Linked DNA regions of Homo sapiens. The protein of the gene in region 2 interacts with the protein of the main gene of each other region in a pairwise test. Each region holds a gene or a part of one and is shown on either strand. Other genes may lie near its edges.

Region 1 (3,655 bases), on a different chromosome or scaffold from region 2:
GAATGACCGCTGGAGAAACAAATTACTGATGGGACGATTAATATATGACTGTGTTGTGTACTCCATCCCCCTGTCCCCATGACCAATGCAGCAGCTGAGTCCTAGGATGCCTCCTCTGGGCTGTTCCATCCTGTTGAACAGAGTAGGGTAAAAGTTTTACGATACTCCCGGGAAAATCTGATGAACTGGAATGTGTACTTTTAACAGAGCCTAAAATTACTTACAGGCCCAGAGGGAATGGCTTGCCTAACTAACATGCATTTTCCACATGCTCCATAGTGTTGCAGTTAGGAAGGAAGCTGTGGGGAAACTTCCATTTTGGTGCAAATCTCAGCATCCCCCAAATAACCTGCAGGACTGCCTGGGGAGGCTGCCATCCCCAACCTCCTGGCTGCTCTCGGGGGACCCCCACACAGCCTCCTCCTGCTGAGCTGGGAAAAGGCACCGGCACGGTCACCAAGCAGCAGTTGGGAGGCACACTGTGTAACCACACAAGGAAAAGGTGGAAGGTAACTTTCAACACACTCGCTGTTATTCCTTCTGTCCCTTTCCAATTCAGACTGGGAATTTCTCCAGCACCAAGCACCAGAATCTCCCTAGCTAGAGACAGAGGCACTGCACCAGCCAAGTTGTTATGAACTTTAATTGGCCTTCCCATAAGCATAAAACATTGTTATGTTACAGAAATCACGAAGTTCTTTCCTACCTTTACAAGCACCAAAGAAAAAACAAATCAAAAAACCCCCAAACTCCAAGGAACAGAGAAATTCCAGCAACCTTTCGAAGATAAGACAAGACCGAGGGCAAATTACAAAAGGAAATATCTCCCGAGAAGTGATATTTAAGCAGTGACCACTGCGGCTGGACTCCAGGGGCCAGAACGGCAGGGTGTGGAATGCAACCTGCCTGTGAGCACACACCTTCGCCCAGGGCAGGCCACCAGCCAGCCAACTAGCAGGCCCGACGTCAGGGCAGGTGGCACCTGGCCAGAGCTGCATAAGGGAGCCACTGAAGGACACTGGGGCAGGGCAGCAGGCCATGAGCCATCTTTTCCCCTCCTCCCACTTAAACATTTCTGGGCGTGCTGCGTGTACAAAGTGGTGACAAGTTCTAGGAGGATCTGCATTCCAAAGGGCAAACAGAAAAGTGGCTCTATTAGGCCTGACTTGTTGACTTAAGAGACTTAGTCTTTTTTTCATTTCTTATCTTAAAAAGTTTTTAAACCAGGATCATTCAGGGCCAACTAGGAGGCCTTCCCTGCAGCAGTGGTTCTGTTATCCTGCCGAATACACTCCCACTCTGTGCATGACATTAATTCCCTGCTTCGACCATTCAGCAGCCTATCCTTCCCAAAGGAAACAGAAGAAAAGGTACCCCTTCTAACACTGTAAGGCATCTCAAGTCCAATCCTATTACTATGAAAAGGAGGATTTCTAAATATCAGGTCTTGCCTCCCTCCTTGCAATTGCCCTGAGTTTTTTTGTTTGTTTTGAGACAGGCTCTCGCTCTGTTGCCCAGGCTGGAGTGAAGTGGCATGGTCATGGCTCACTGCAGCTTCAACCTCCCAGGCTCAAGCAATCCTCCCACCTCAGCCTCTCGAGTAGCTGGGACCACAGGCACACACCACCATGCCCAGCTAATTTTTATATTTAAAAAATTTTGTGCATACATAGTAGGTGTATATATTTATGGGGTACATGAGATGTTTTGATACAGGCATGCAATGTGAAATAAGTGTATCATGGAGAATGGGGTATCCATGCCCTCTAGCATTTATCCTTTGAGTTACAAACAGTCCAATTACACTCTTTATTTTAAAATATATAATTGTTTTGACTACAGTCACCCTATTGTGTTATCAAATAAGTCTTATTCATTCTTTCTAAATTTTTTGTACCCATTAACCATCCCCACCTCCCTCCCATCCCCTACTCCCCACCCACTACTACCCTTCCCAGGCTCTGCTAACCATCCTTCTACTCTCTGTGTCCAAGAATTCAGTTGTTTTGACTTTTTGATCCCACAAATAAGTGAGAACATTTGTCTTTCTGTGTCTGGCTTATTTCACTTAACATAATGATCTCCAATTCCATCCACGTGGTTGCAAATAACAGGATCTCATTGTTTTTATGGCTGAATAGTACTCCACTGTGTATATACACATTTCCCTTATCTATTCAGCTGTTGATGGACACTTAGGCTGCTTCCAAATCTTAGCTATTGTAAACAGTGCTGCAACAAACATTGGTGCAGGTATCTCTTTGATATACTGATTTCCACTCTTCTGGGTATATACCCAGCAGTGGGATTGCTGGATCATATAGTAGCTCAATTTTTAGTTTTCTGAGGAACCTCGAAACTGTTCTCCATAGTGGTTGTACTAATTTACATTCCCCTCAACAGTGTAGGAGGGTTCCCTTTTCCCCACAATCCTCACCAGCATTTGTTATTACCTGTCTTTTGGATATAGGCCTTTTTAACTGGGGTAAGGTGATATCCATTATAGTTTTGATTTGCATTTCTCTGATGACCAATCATGTTGAACACCTTTTCATATGCCTGTTTGCCACTGCAGTGGCATGATCTCGGCTCACTGCCTCCTGGGTTCAAGCAATTCTCCTGCCTTAGCCTCCCTAGTAGCTGGGACTACAGGCGTGCACCACCACACCTGGTTAATTTTTGCATTTTTAGTAGAGATGGGGTTTTGCCATGTTGGCCAGGTTGGTCTTGAACTCCTGAACTCAGGTAATCCACCTGCCTCGGCCTCCCAAATTGTTGGGATTACAGGCGTGAGCCACCATGCCCAGCCCATTTGTATGTCTTCTTTTGAGAAATACTCATTTCTCAAAAGAGCAAATCTTTTGCCCATTTTAAAAATCAGATTATTAGAGTTTTTCCTATAGAGTTGTTTGAGCTCCTTATATTAATTTTCATATTTTTTGTAGAGACAGGGTTGTGCCATGTTGCCCAAGCTGGTCTTGAACTCTGAAGCTCAGGCAATCTGCCCACCTTAGCCTCCCAAAGTGCTGGGATTACAGCTGTGAGCCACTGTGCTGGGTCTGAGTCTGACATTCTACTCTCCTCCAGATAATAATTATCATGAGCACTTCCCTAGCACCTCCTCTGTGCCTGCACTGTTCTGAGCACTTTGCATATATTAAATCATGTACACCTCACAAGCTCCATCTTTCTAGATGAAGAAGGTGAGGCCCAGGAAGGTCAAGTCGCTTGCCCATGGTTGAAAAGTTGCCCAATGTGGAGCCGGCATTTGTGCCTGGCTACTGGGTCCCCAGCCAGATGCTGACTAGCATGTGCCGGAGCCTCCAGGCAGCACACAGCTGTCATTTACATTCCACACAGAGTCCTGTATTTTCCTCCCTAAGTTTTGCAGTATAGAAATGACAGTTTATGACATTTCCTCATGGACCCCCCCGCCAAAAAAAAAAACCAGTGAGTAGAATAAAATATGTTGGTTTACGTGCATAAGATTAGAAGCTGGGAGCCGGGTCAGGGCTGCTGTGTGACTGAGGGGCTGGACTGGATCTATGTCCCCGATGCCTGCCTTTTCCCTCCTTTCCTTTCCCAGTGCTTTTAGATAATATGCACAAAGACTCTGAGCTCTGTGAAAGACGGGCCCTATACAAATGCAGGCCAA
Region 2 (2,832 bases):
AATCGTTTCAATGGTCATTTAAGTTGTTAATTTTAAAAAATGGTCATTTCAGCTTGATGCATAAGAGCGTTCTTTGCAGGAACTTCATTTTTGACTACAAAGGCTTTGAATTTTATTTTGCTGCTTGCAGTAATTTTTGTTTTCTTTTTCTTCCAGGGTATATGAGAAAATATTGACTCCTATCTGGCCTTCATCAACTGACCTCGAAAAGCCTCATGAGATGCTTTTTCTTAATGTGATTTTGTTCAGCCTCACTGTTTTTACCTTAATTTCAACTGCCCACACACTTGACCGTGCAGTCAGGAGTGACTGGCTTCTCCTTGTCCTCATTTATGCATGTTTGGAGGAGCTGATTCCTGAACTCATATTTAATCTCTACTGCCAGGGAAATGCTACATTATTTTTCTAATTGGAAGTATAATTAGAGTGATGTTGGTAGGGTAGAAAAAGAGGGAGTCACTTGATGCTTTCAGGTTAATCAGAGCTATGGGTGCTACAGGCTTGTCTTTCTAAGTGACATATTCTTATCTAATTCTCAGATCAGGTTTTGAAAGCTTTGGGGGTCTTTTTAGATTTTAATCCCTACTTTCTTTATGGTACAAATATGTACAAAAGAAAAAGGTCTTATATTCTTTTACACAAATTTATAAATAAATTTTGAACTCCTTCTGTATAAATGGGTCATTTTTATTTTTAATGAAAAGTTATTGGGGTTTTCTCTCTTGAAGGGTCTCATTTTAATTCCCTTTTCCAGGCCGTATAGATCAAATATAGTACTGTCATTACTGTTGGCTCTTGTTTTGGTCTTGACTTACTAATAGTGTTACCCTGATTTTCAGAGGGGGACAGTTTATCTCCAGAAAGGCCAATGTTTGTATACACATCAGCTAGACACAAATATAGACATCATATGTAGTTTGTACATGTTTCAGAAACTTGTTTTTTCTTTGCTCTGTGTAACCTATTTCCTATTGCTAGTTCAGTTGGCTTTCTTATTCACTTCTGTGACCCTGAACCAGTTCTCAGACCCTAGAGTGTAAGAGCATTGATTTTCTACGCTGTGTAATCTAGCTCAATCCCTCTGTCCCCTCCGCCTCACCGTCCCCCAGCCACCACATTGTATAGCAAAAGCATTACATTCAATCCTAGAATAAAGGTAAATACAACAAATCATCTTTGCAGCTGGACAACTAATAATACTTTGCAGCATTAAGAGATCTTCTGTGTTACCAGTCACTCTGTTGAAATGAACTTTCCGAATCTCTTTATTCAGGAAAACATGGGGTTTTGAAATTCTTGGGCCAAGAGACATAACTGAGGGGTTCGCAGAGCTAGGCAAGGGTGCACTAGGAAAGGGCCACATTGGTGGGTGGGGGGTAACAGAGAACAGATGGTGTCAGGAAGTTTCTCTGGAGTAAATAATGTGGATATTCTTGGTTTCCCTCTCCTCCGCCAGCTGAAGCTGTGTTAGTGCTGTTGACACTAATATAAAATGTTTGGTCCATTTGAAATCCTTGTCATTGCCTTATATGGGGGAAACTCAATCCCCCAGCCTGTGTTGGAAATATCACCAAACTGATTGTAAATGTGCGGCTGTAGCAGACATTTTAGTGTGGTGGTGTGCAGCCATTTCGGCCCTACACCTGCCAGCCTGGCTACCTTACAGTTGTGTTCCGATTTTTGCGTCTATGCTTGGTGTGCCTCACTTGCTGCATTTTCCAGCATGCAACCAGGAGTTGACGTAGGAAAAAGGGATGCTTTCTTACTTTGGAAGCTCTCAGGGAAGTTGGTGTCAATTTCTCCTCCACTGCCTGGCCTACCCTGCACTCCCAAAGATTTTGTGCAGATGGGTAGTTCCATTTTTTAAAAATTGTGCAGATATGGAAAATTGTGACTTACTTCATGACCAGAACTATCTAGAATATGTGTGGGGGTATAAACATCTTGCTTAACCAAATATCTATGTAGGCAGAGGTAACCAGGAGAGAAGCAAGACTTGCTGCCTAAAGGAGCCCACCATTTTACTTTTCACATTTAATCTGCCACGTTGAATCAATTGGAATAAAACCTGACTCGCAGGTGACTGGACAGGAAATCCCAAAGTTCCACCATTTCTATGCTTAATTTTAATGTCCCCCCGCTTTTTTTTTTGTAGAAAATAAAAACAAGAAAATCGTTCCAATGTAAGATGTTTGTTATAGAAACTTTAGGCAATACAGGTGTGTAATAAAATGTTTAATAAACTTCTAAACACTTTTGTATTTGGATTTACCACTTTTTCCTTTGTGGTTTCTTCTTGGTATTATGTTGATAGATCCTAAAATCTACAAAGCAACAACCTCTACCCAGTGGCCTATTTTAACAAAACAAAGGATTTCCCCTACTACTGGGCTTAGTTATATTATAGTAGATAGTCAGGCAGACAGGAGCAGGCCAAGAGAGGCCCCCACTACCAGGAATGTCAGGCAACCATCAGGTGATGGTCAGCCAAGTTATTTTTGTTGTTTTTCTTTTTTTTTGAGATGGAGTCTCACTCTGTTGCCCAGGTTGGAGTACAGTGGCATGACCTCGGCTCACTGCAACCTCTGCTACCCGGGTTCAAGAGATTCTCCTGCCTCAAACTCCCAAGTAGCTGGGATTACAGTCTCCCACCCGCCACCACGCCCAGCTAATTGTTGTATTTTTAGTAGAGACGGGGTTTTGCCACGTTGGCCAGGCTGGTCTCAAACTCCTGACCTCAGGTGATCCGCCTGCCTCAGCCTCCCAAAGTGCTGGGATTACAGGCATGAGCCACTGCACCCAGCCGGCCAGCCAGTTGTTAAGCTGACTCTC

Evidence for each region. Proteins that work in one complex are often made in the same cells at the same time.
Region 1: the proteins of EPSTI1 (region 2) and BCAR3 interact in a two-hybrid assay, tested with the Homo sapiens proteins (one large-scale study listed by BioGRID and IntAct).

Annotation. Positions count from the first base shown.
Region 1 is NC_000001.11:93,584,266-93,587,920, forward strand, and holds part of BCAR3 (breast cancer anti-estrogen resistance protein 3), read right to left. Parts: intron 898-3,655; exon of another isoform or gene 707-897; intron 1-706. UniProt on the Homo sapiens protein: Acts as an adapter protein downstream of several growth factor receptors to promote cell proliferation, migration, and redistribution of actin fibers.
Region 2 is NC_000013.11:42,885,827-42,888,658, reverse strand, and holds the end of EPSTI1 (epithelial-stromal interaction protein 1), read left to right. Parts: intron 1-156; coding exon 157-165; coding exon of another isoform or gene 166-409; 3' UTR 410-2,271; downstream 2,272-2,832. UniProt on the Homo sapiens protein: Plays a role in M1 macrophage polarization and is required for the proper regulation of gene expression during M1 versus M2 macrophage differentiation.